Regions from separate parts of the Homo sapiens genome. Here region 1 is linked to region 2. The links come from fine-mapping of genetic effects on gene expression. Tissue or cell type: whole blood. Region 2 holds a variant in brackets; the other region holds the start of a gene. All regions are shown on one strand. Distances are from middle to middle. Region 1 holds the start of ADRA2A (adrenoceptor alpha 2A). Region 2 overlaps HEAT2 (HEart disease Associated Transcript 2).

Region 1 (5,371 bases), 42 kb before region 2:
GTCTTCCTAGGAAATGCTGATCTATAGGCCTGGTTGAGAATTATTATATTTGTGGATATCTTTCTGCTCAGCAATGTCTCACTCAGCTTGCACAGCATGAAATCTTCTAGCAAAAATTAATGGTGTCCACATAGCTTTTCAAAGCTCAGAGATACTGACCCTGTGTGACAAACTGAGGAGGCAGAACCTTTGGTGATAAGGAACATGTGACAGGAATAAGAACTCTGTGTATAAAGGGGCCATGTATATCACCCTACACATGGTGCATACATCATGGTACTTAATAAAATGCAGCACTTGTTATTATTGGTATTCGTTGTGTATTGGCCTCAGGGTTCCTGGCTCTGAAAAGACCTGTTCCCATTTTAGGAGAAAAGACTCCAAATCAGGGAATTAAGAAACCACCTGGCTGTTTGGGAAGCATTTAGAAAATATGACAAGAGGTGTCATACACAGGCTAGCAGCAGAAATTTCAAGAAAGATAATTACTGTAAACTTTGTTTTTATTTCCTCTTTTGATTCTGAAATTAGGAAGAAGAGCAGTGTGTTGGAAGCTGGGGTGCAGATGGTAAGTGATGGTCTCCTAAGACTCAGTTCCCGAGTTCTACAAACAGCAACACAGCAAACCCCAGATTGCCACGGGCTCTGATTTTTGTCTCTTAGTATTCATACTTGAAGTGTGGGGTTCCTAGTTGCTGTGCAAAAATGACTGTAGCCATGTTTCCAACTGAGCCTACTGGCGATGTCCAAAGCCCCTGCCAAGAGCCTCAGAGCAGAGACTTTAGTAGAAGATGGAAAATGAGTGACTCAACAGAGCGAGGAAATTGTCTTCTCAGCTTCCTTTAGATTGTCCAGAAAGGGAGATTAGAAAGGCTCCTCAGAACTAACACTGGAAAGGGAGTTTATACCATTAGGGCAAAGATTGGGAGACAAAGGTACTGAAGTCAAATGAGACTTCTGTGAAATACTTTGGAAAGTACAGATTTTGAGACTACATGAACAGCAGCAGCACCAATAACTGTATCACTGGTGCGGGCTATAGACATCAGCTGGGAATGAAGGTGATTCTCAGGGCCCTTAATTTAGCCATCAGCCCCCAGCCAGACCTAAGCCTGCAGCTGGCTGCACAGAGAGGCAGCCTGTTCCATCCTTGGAATTCCAACTTAGGTGACTGCACAAGGCATTTTGGTTTAGTGGTTCCTTAAATAAGACGACATTCCTTTAAGTCTAATCTCTCTCCTGCTGAAATTTCCTACCCTCTTGGGTTTTACCATTAAACTGCTTGCTCTCATCTGAAAAGTGCAGCTAGCAGGGTGCAAGCTAGTGCTCTAGTGACCGTTAAAATCTATCCTAGGACAGCTAGCACGCACGGAAAAACTTGCCATTCGCCGCACACCCACTCCCCCCCGCCCCCACCGCTATTCTTATCAGAGAGAACATGGAAAATATTCTACTCCCTCTTCCCCTTATTGAAGGATGCTGTGTGTACATCTGAATGGGGGTGGGATGCGGGGCGGGAGTGGAGTCTAGCTTTCGGTCCTCAACAAAAACATAATGATTCCCAGCAAGCCAGAGCTGTGCAACCAAGGAGGCAGGATCCTGGCCTCTCTCGGATCTGCAGGAAGGGTGGGCTGTGCGGGTCCAGAGTGGGATGCCCGTTCTGGCCGGCGGTGCCTGCTGAGCCCTTCCTGATGTGACTTTATTAGACAAACCCCCACTCCCGCCAGGGGTAGACACACGAGTATCTGCTTTAGGAAGATTTCTGCAACACGGCAGGGTGCAATTCAAACTCTGGGTTCTCCTTTCCTGAGCTTAGAAACCAATTTGTTCGGAGATAGGAGAAGGCTCTGTTGGCAGAAGACCTAAGAGACGGGAGGAGGCGCCTGGCGTCAGCGGGTCGCTTCTCAGCCGTGACCACGAGCGGCCAGCAGGTGTCAGTGCGTCCTCGCTTTGCCCTGGCGCTCGGCTCCTGGACCCCTCCCCACCTCGGTCTAAGGGGGCGCGGTCCAGACCCCGGGTCTTGCGTTTCCCGCAGACAGCATCGCGGCTGGGAGGACACGTAGCCGCTTCTTCCCTAAGCGGAGGTCTGAACTCCGGCTTGTACCACTTCCCCGTGGGTGCTGTCCATTCCGCCCCAGGGGTTCCATCCGAAGCCGCGCCTTCCTCCCTCTCCAGGACCCCTTTCTCCCCAGCCTCCAGGAGCACCTGCGGACCGCGTCGGCTCTGGCCCGGAGCTGGGCTGCTCCAGACGTAACTCACACCGGAGGTTACTTCCCTCGATTTGGGCGGGGATTCCCTTCCATTTTTTTCTTCCCTTTTCTCCCAAGATCCAGCTTCTTGGGGGCACTCACGGGTGCCCGTTGCGTTCTGCTCCGTCGGCCCGGAGCTGCATGGCCAACTCCCAGCAGGGGCCGCTCCTCCCCTACCCCCCACCCCCGGGCTCCCTCTTTAAGTCTCTAGCTCAAGGTACCCGCCTCTCCAAAGGGCTCGTCCCGCCTGAGGGCAACGCTCCCCGAGGTCCAGCGCTAGGCGCGGGCGCTAGACTGGCGGAGGGGTGGTGCGAGGGGCGGGGGAGGGTCGGCTTCCCACGTGGGGGCTGACGCCGGCTGCTCAGCAACGCTTGCTTGATCCTGGGGCTATAAAACGAGTCCACCGTGAGCGCAGCGGAGCAGCAGCAGCTCCAGCTCGGTGCAGAAGCCCAGCAGCCGGCGTGCCGCCGCCCGGCCACTCCAGCGCCTTCTTCCCCGCCTTGCGCTCCTGCCCCAACTCGCGCTGTCGTCGGACCCCGGCCCATCCAGCAGCGCTCGGCGCCCACCAGGCGGACGCCCAGGAGAACCCCTGCCTCCGTCGCGGCTCCTGGAGAGCTGATCGTTCACCTGCCCCGGCCCGCCTGAGGACGGGGGTGCCTTCATGCGGCCCCCACACTCCTCACCCCGCCGCCGCCGCCGTCCCGGAGCTCCGCACAGTGTGCCCCAGCCCCAGCAGGGCGCACAACTTTGGAAGTCTCGCGGCGCTCCGAGAGGCGGCAGAGTCCGCGCCCCAGCCCCGGGCCGGGCCGGGCCAGAACCGCAGCGTCTGGGGGAAGCCAGAGAGTCGGTAATCGCTTCGGGGATGTAAGGCGACAGACATAGGACCCCCGAGCTCGCATCAGCACCCTTCGGCTGCCTCCCGGGGTGGGGGCGGGCCCCGCACACGGTAAGACCTCTTGCTTTCGCTCAGGCTCAAGATTCAAGATACAGATATTGATATGTATATATATATTTAATTTCCTGTCATCCTTCCAAGTTATCAGGCCACCGATGATTTTTGTTCTCCCTTCTTGAAGAATAAATCTCTCTTTACCCATCGGCTCTCCCTACTCTCTCCCGCCGCTTAGAAATAAAACTTGGCTGTATTAGGAGCTCGGAGCAAGAAGGCGCCCACCGAGAGCGTCTGAAGCGCGAGCCAGGCGCAGTTCGCGGGACCCGGGCCATGGGCCGCTAGCGGTCCTCCAGTTCGGGCCCGGCCTCCCTGCGGCCCCCTCCCTATGTGAGCCGCAGCCAGGCGAGCGGGGCGCCGGAGGAAGAGGAGGACCCACGGGCGCCGGGCCGGAAGGCAGCTGGCAGCAGGCCCAGGCCAGCGGGCGCCCGCGTTCATGTTCCGCCAGGAGCAGCCGTTGGCCGAGGGCAGCTTTGCGCCCATGGGCTCCCTGCAGCCGGACGCGGGCAACGCGAGCTGGAACGGGACCGAGGCGCCGGGGGGCGGCGCCCGGGCCACCCCTTACTCCCTGCAGGTGACGCTGACGCTGGTGTGCCTGGCCGGCCTGCTCATGCTGCTCACCGTGTTCGGCAACGTGCTCGTCATCATCGCCGTGTTCACGAGCCGCGCGCTCAAGGCGCCCCAAAACCTCTTCCTGGTGTCTCTGGCCTCGGCCGACATCCTGGTGGCCACGCTCGTCATCCCTTTCTCGCTGGCCAACGAGGTCATGGGCTACTGGTACTTCGGCAAGGCTTGGTGCGAGATCTACCTGGCGCTCGACGTGCTCTTCTGCACGTCGTCCATCGTGCACCTGTGCGCCATCAGCCTGGACCGCTACTGGTCCATCACACAGGCCATCGAGTACAACCTGAAGCGCACGCCGCGCCGCATCAAGGCCATCATCATCACCGTGTGGGTCATCTCGGCCGTCATCTCCTTCCCGCCGCTCATCTCCATCGAGAAGAAGGGCGGCGGCGGCGGCCCGCAGCCGGCCGAGCCGCGCTGCGAGATCAACGACCAGAAGTGGTACGTCATCTCGTCGTGCATCGGCTCCTTCTTCGCTCCCTGCCTCATCATGATCCTGGTCTACGTGCGCATCTACCAGATCGCCAAGCGTCGCACCCGCGTGCCACCCAGCCGCCGGGGTCCGGACGCCGTCGCCGCGCCGCCGGGGGGCACCGAGCGCAGGCCCAACGGTCTGGGCCCCGAGCGCAGCGCGGGCCCGGGGGGCGCAGAGGCCGAACCGCTGCCCACCCAGCTCAACGGCGCCCCTGGCGAGCCCGCGCCGGCCGGGCCGCGCGACACCGACGCGCTGGACCTGGAGGAGAGCTCGTCTTCCGACCACGCCGAGCGGCCTCCAGGGCCCCGCAGACCCGAGCGCGGTCCCCGGGGCAAAGGCAAGGCCCGAGCGAGCCAGGTGAAGCCGGGCGACAGCCTGCCGCGGCGCGGGCCGGGGGCGACGGGGATCGGGACGCCGGCTGCAGGGCCGGGGGAGGAGCGCGTCGGGGCTGCCAAGGCGTCGCGCTGGCGCGGGCGGCAGAACCGCGAGAAGCGCTTCACGTTCGTGCTGGCCGTGGTCATCGGAGTGTTCGTGGTGTGCTGGTTCCCCTTCTTCTTCACCTACACGCTCACGGCCGTCGGGTGCTCCGTGCCACGCACGCTCTTCAAATTCTTCTTCTGGTTCGGCTACTGCAACAGCTCGTTGAACCCGGTCATCTACACCATCTTCAACCACGATTTCCGCCGCGCCTTCAAGAAGATCCTCTGTCGGGGGGACAGGAAGCGGATCGTGTGAGGTTTCCGCTGGCGCCCGCGTAGACTCACGCTGACTGCAGGCAGCGGGGGGCATCGAGGGGTGCTTAGCCCCAGGGCACTCAGAAACCCGGGCGCTGCCTGCTCTGCGTTTCCTCGTCTGGGGTGGCTCTGCAGCCTCCTGCGGGCGGGCGTCTGCTGCTCCTACAAGGGAAGCTTCTTGCTGCCAGGCCCACACATCCCCAGTTGTTGGTTTGGCCACTCTTGACCTGGAGCCATCTTCCTAGTGGGCCACCCCTAATCACTATTGCTTCCTAAAGGTATTTTCACCCTCTTCGCCTGGTACAGCCCTCACAGCTCTTCAGAGCAAGCACTGGACTAC
Region 2 (5,371 bases):
AGCTCTGAAGGAGGGGGGAGGTTGAGATGACGCCTGCCTCTCCCCTCAGGGTGGGCTTTGGTGGAGGTGGTGAGCTCTAAGATCGCCCTCTACTCCATGGAAGCTTCCAGGACACACCAGCACCTGCAGGCGCGTGTCTTCCTTTCCCAGTCAGTGTTTCTCTGAGCATCCTGATTCAGATTCCAGGCACTGAAAGACCCTCCACAAATGTTTCACTGCTTCAGGTGCTCATGCCTGCTGCCCCACCAGGATTGACCCGTGCTCCCCGGTCTCTGTCCTCTGCCGGGAGTACATCTCCTCCACCGGTCTGTAAGTTCCTCTCTGAGGAACGTGCCCTGTATCCCCACGCAATCATTTCCAGGAGCCCTATGAATCTGCATTGTTACAGAATCTGTGAGAGGTCCCTGTGGACCTGCCCAGCCGCCCCAGGCGACAGGTGTTGGCGCTGCCATATCCCTCCCTCCCTCTGCACATCGAGCACTGGTCCTCCCCTGTTCCTAGCACGCAGCCTGGCACACGACAGATGTCCAACTGTTAACTGAGTTGTCCCAAATAAGCCTAGTGGCAGGAGCCCCGGCTGGCTGGGGATTGGGGGTCCAAGGCCACAGACACCCTCAGGTCTGTCCCAATCCATAGGTCAGACAGTGGGTGGGGGTGGCCCTTTAATCGAGGGAGGGGTGCGTCAGGCCGAGGCCAGAACGTTCAGGCTAAAGCTGCTTGAGCCTGACAGAGCTGGGAGCAAGGCCTGCTGGGGAGGTGCCCGGAAGGAGCTGTGATTTCAAGCAGCTCCCTTAGCGTAAGCTCTGGGCTTCTGCAACCCTGCAGAGCACCTGTCTCCCTGGGTAGGGCTTAGAGGGTGAGGCCCCAGCTTTGTGACCTTGGCTCCTGCTGACAAGGGTGAGGAGGTGAGGGAAGCAACTGCCGATATCTGCTTTAGTTCAGACCCGGGAGCCATGAGTATTCTCCAGCATGATTCAGTTTAATGAACACTTGCTTAGAGCCTCCTCTGTGGTAAGGCAGGGTATCTCTCTCATGGGGTGTAACGCCCACATTTCTGCAGTACCAAATGCCAAGAATCAGGTTAAATATTTTAGGTATCTTTATCTCTTTTAACCTCATGACATCCCTGTGAGGTAGGTATTATTCTTATTCTTGTTCTCATTTTTCAGATGAAGAAACTGAGGTTCCAAGAGTTTCGATGACCTCACAAGTACATGGGCAATGCACAGCAGTGTGGAGGCCCCAGAGAGGGGAGCAGAGTGGGGCTGCTCCTGGGGGCCACTGCTACTGCTGAGACATGGGGAGGAGGTCTAAGGGCAACCCCGAGGCCATGGAGCAGATGGCCTGTGTAGCAGTGGTTGTCAGATGGGATAGTGTGACTGTCTGACTGTCCTGGCAACATGGTAGTCCTGGTCTGGGGGTCTGGGGTAAGGACAGGCCAGTGTTTTCATGGGGAGCAGGCTGTTTGGACACTGCCACTTCCCTGGCCAGCTTATGCATTGATTCTTTTTCCCATTTGGCTCCCACAGGGCTTGGTAATGGAACTGAAGAAATCTGAATGAATTGTCTGATGCATCGTGACTAAGCTTGGAATGTGCCAACTGTCCCCCAGGAGTGGCCCTTGGACAGCAGAGCTGGAGCGCCGGGACTCTGAGTGCAGGAAGGAGGCCGTGCTCCAGGAGAGCCATTGACAGAGCTGCTCTGGAGTTCTGGAAGTGCTTGGAGGGTGTGGGCGTTGTCACATGAATCTGTGGCACCAGCCTGTTGGCTTTCTGGTGAAGGGGTGGTGGCACAGTCTGCTGTCGTGCCTCTGGTGGTCCACACAACCTTCACACAACCTTCTTCATTTCTGGTCAGCTTTGGATACTCCCAAGCTTTGTCACTGATCTCATTTTGACTTACCAGGAAGCTCCACATCTTGTTCTTTGTTAATTTCATGGAGGCTTGCAGGATAACTCTCACTTTATTTCCATGAACGCTCCATTTCAAGAATGTTCAGGAAGACTTTCATCACCTCTTTTGGGCCTCCACTTCCCTCCCACCTCCTTCCTACATCTGTTCCTCTCTAGAGTGAATGGTTTCAATTTTATCAACGTTTCTTCCTGTGGCTGTATGTTTAGGTCCTTTCCCCATGCTGATCACCAAATATAAGATTTATTTATATCCTACCTAACATGTACTCTTTAAAAATCAGGTGCCCATAATAATGATAGTAGCTAGGAGCTTTTATTGAGCTCAAACTATCCATGTACTTCATGTTCATATTCTCTTTTAATCTCACAATCACCTTTTGAAGTTGATATTGTTACCTCCCACGTTATCAATGAGGACACTGAGATTCTGGAAGGTTAAGTACCTCCCTTGCTCAAAGTTACACAGCAAACGAAGAGTAGAGCTGGGATGAGACCTAGGAATCTAGGCTCTGAGGCCCTCCACCCTGCTACTCAAATTATGGCCCAGAGACCAGCGGCACAGGCAGCCACCAGGGCCTTGTGAGAACTGCTCACTCTCACGCCCACATCCAGACCTCCTGGATCAGGAGGCTGGTGGTTCACATACATGCTTAAGTTGGAGCAGCTCTGGGTCTAGTCTCCTTGGAAGGAAATGGGCCACTTTAATTCCATTGGTGCTGCCTTGGAGCATGTTAGATTTTGGTGTCACAGCCCCTTTTCTATACCCTTAGTTGGTGCTGTCCTCAGGCTCATCTTTGTCCTGCACAGGCCCTTCCTACAGGAGACACATTTTCTCAGAATGATAGTATGATGGTTAATTTTATGAGTCAACTTGGCTAGGCCATGGTACCCAGACATTTGATTAAACATTATTATAGATATTTCTATCATAGTGTTTTTTAGATGAGATTAACATTTAAATCAGTGGACTGAGTAAAAC[C/A]GATTACCATCCATAACATGGGTGAGCCTCCTCCAATCAGTTGAAAGTCTTAATAGAAAAACAAAACCAAAAAAACTGACTTCCCCCTTAATAGAAAAAGACTGAAGAAGAAGGATTTCTGCCAGAAAACTGCATGTGGACTTGAACTACAACTCTTCCCTGGATCTCCAACCTGCCAGCCTACCACATTCATGCTCTCTCTCTCTCTCTCTCTCTCTCTCTCTCTCTCTCTCTCTCCTGTTTCTTCTTTTTCTCTGGAGAACCGTAACACACCTTCTCTTTTCTGGAGTCAGAATTCAGTTTTAAGTAGACTTGGCTCTAGGGGTCAGAGGAGATGGATGAATACAGAGGGAAGCCTGGCTGATGTTTGACCGAGGGACAACCCTTATTTCTCTGAAGAAATAGATAGTGTTCCTCATCCTATAACTCTCACTGGGCTCTGTTCTGTAGAGATGGACAGTGGTGTGCACCTGGGCTCTGACCTGTGTTATGCAGTCGCATCTCACATGTTTACACCCATGCCTGCTGCTCCCATGGCTCTGGATCCTCCTGGTACGTATCTCGCTGGTGACCAAGCTTAAGGGTAGGTACCTCTCCTTCAACTCTGCTGCTTGGCCCAGGGCAACTCTGAGGTCATAGCAATGTCCCAGTCAGACTGGTTAGGAGGAAGAGGGGTTGGGGCAGAGTGAAGCAAGGGAGGCTTTCAGCAATTCAACTATCATGTGTCAGGTTTTGCTGTTTTGTGGTTTTATTTCTAATTTTCTTATCCTACTTGAAAAAAGCAGGGTAAAACACTGAGCTTCTTGGTTCTGTAAGTCAATAGTTTTCACCAAATTTGGATTTTTTTTCTATTAATGTCTCCAAAGATTTTCCTGGAGAAATTCCCATTCTCTTTTCTTCTAGCATTCAAATTATAGACATACAAAGTCATTTGATATTTTCCTATTAGTCATCAAGGCTCTGGTTATTTTTCTTTAATCTCTTTCTGTTCTTCAGATTAATACTTTCAATGGATTTTTTAGTTTATTAACTCTTTCTTCTGCTCTCTCCTATTTGATGTTAAACCCATCTAGTAAAATTTTTGCATTAGCAATTGTACAGCTCTCGTTTTTCTTCCTGTTGAGATAGCCATCTGTTTATGAATTAGGATAACATTTTCCCTCAATTCCTTTAAGTCTGATATCTTATTTGGGTACTCAGCATGTTAATGAGGTGTGGGTCAGAGTGCTATGTCCACCAGCACTCTTCACCCTCTCTATTATGCTTTCAAACTTGTAGTAGGCATTCTCTGATAAGACCTAGATAGTTACACCCTGAACATATACAGCCCACTCCTCGGTCTTCAACTTCCAGGGTGCAAGACTTCTAGACTTCTGTCCTCAGCTTTTCCCTCTGTGATATCCTGCCCTGCAACTCCCAGCTTCTCCAGCTGCCTTGAAGTCTGTTTTCTGCCTCTTCAGCCCATTGGTATTGCCATGCTTTGTTCAGACTCATATGCATTACTCTGAAGTTGGGAAATTTCCCTAGAAAGAGAGTAGGGGGTGATTATTGAGCATTACTTTTGTTTTCTCTAACATAACACCTAGTAAATCTTTGAATTTTTATCTTCTATCTCTTATGTTGGGCCATAGAATTGAGTAGTTTCTCTGGCCTTCTTGGTTCTCACACAATGGCATCTTGCCTTTCAGTTCATCTGATTGGTCACAAGACTCTCCTCCTCCTTTTTTTTTTGTTTTTGAGACAGGATCTTGCTCTGCCACCCAGGCTGAAGTGCAGTGGTGCAGTCATGGCTCACTGTAACCTTGACTTTTCAGGCTCAAGTGATCCTCCCACCCATCCTAGCCTCCTGAGTAGCTGGAACTACAGGTGTGCACCACCATGCCTAGCTAAATTTTTCATTTTTTGTAGAGATGGGGGTCTCAAACTCCTGGCCTCAAGCAATCCTCCCATCTTGACCTCTCAAACAAAACACTGGGATTTCAGACATAAGCCACAGTGCCTGGCCACAAAGGCCTTTTTTATTGTGATAGGTAGTATTTATTCCCACTATGTGGCACTCACTGTGTGCTAGGCATTGTGGTAAATGCTATGCAACTATTTCTCACTCTCATATCAGCCTCTTCAGGGAGGTGTTCATATCACCCCCATTTTACATGTAAGGGAGGGGAATGTAGAGGGGTGAAAGGGCTTTCAATGGTCATAAAATAAGGAAACAGCAGTTGAGACCTGAACTCAGGACTCTTCCATCTCATCCCATGCTCTGAGCCATTGCTGTCTTGTTTCTATACACCTATACGCAGCCAAACTTCTCTGCCATTTCAGCCACTTAAAGCACTAACATAGGTTTCTGGAAAACAGTTTCCTCTGGCACTGATTGTTTCTGCCAATGTACAACACAGTATACCCCTGCACTTGATACCCCTGCACTCACCAGACACTCTCTCCTTTCCCCACCATAGCAGCCTTCGATCAAATCGTT

Evidence for each region.
Region 1: it holds the start of ADRA2A, and the variant in region 2 is fine-mapped to the expression of ADRA2A in whole blood (TOPMed, PIP 0.95).

Annotation. Positions count from the first base shown.
Region 1 is chr10:111,074,363-111,079,733 of GRCh38, forward strand. It overlaps ADRA2A (adrenoceptor alpha 2A), which reads left to right and starts at 2,667. Exons shown (of 1, transcript NM_000681.4): 1 at 2,667-5,371. The coding sequence starts at 3,635. The coding sequence ends at 5,032. RefSeq lists a silencer at 2,630-2,679.
Region 2 is chr10:111,116,431-111,121,801 of GRCh38, forward strand. HEAT2 (HEart disease Associated Transcript 2) reads left to right here. Exons shown (of 3, transcript NR_159949.1): 3 at 1,530-2,166. Among named protein-coding and RNA genes, the nearest start is that of HEAT2, 4.8 kb to the left of the region's middle. The variant C/A (reference allele first, on the strand shown) is at 2,893.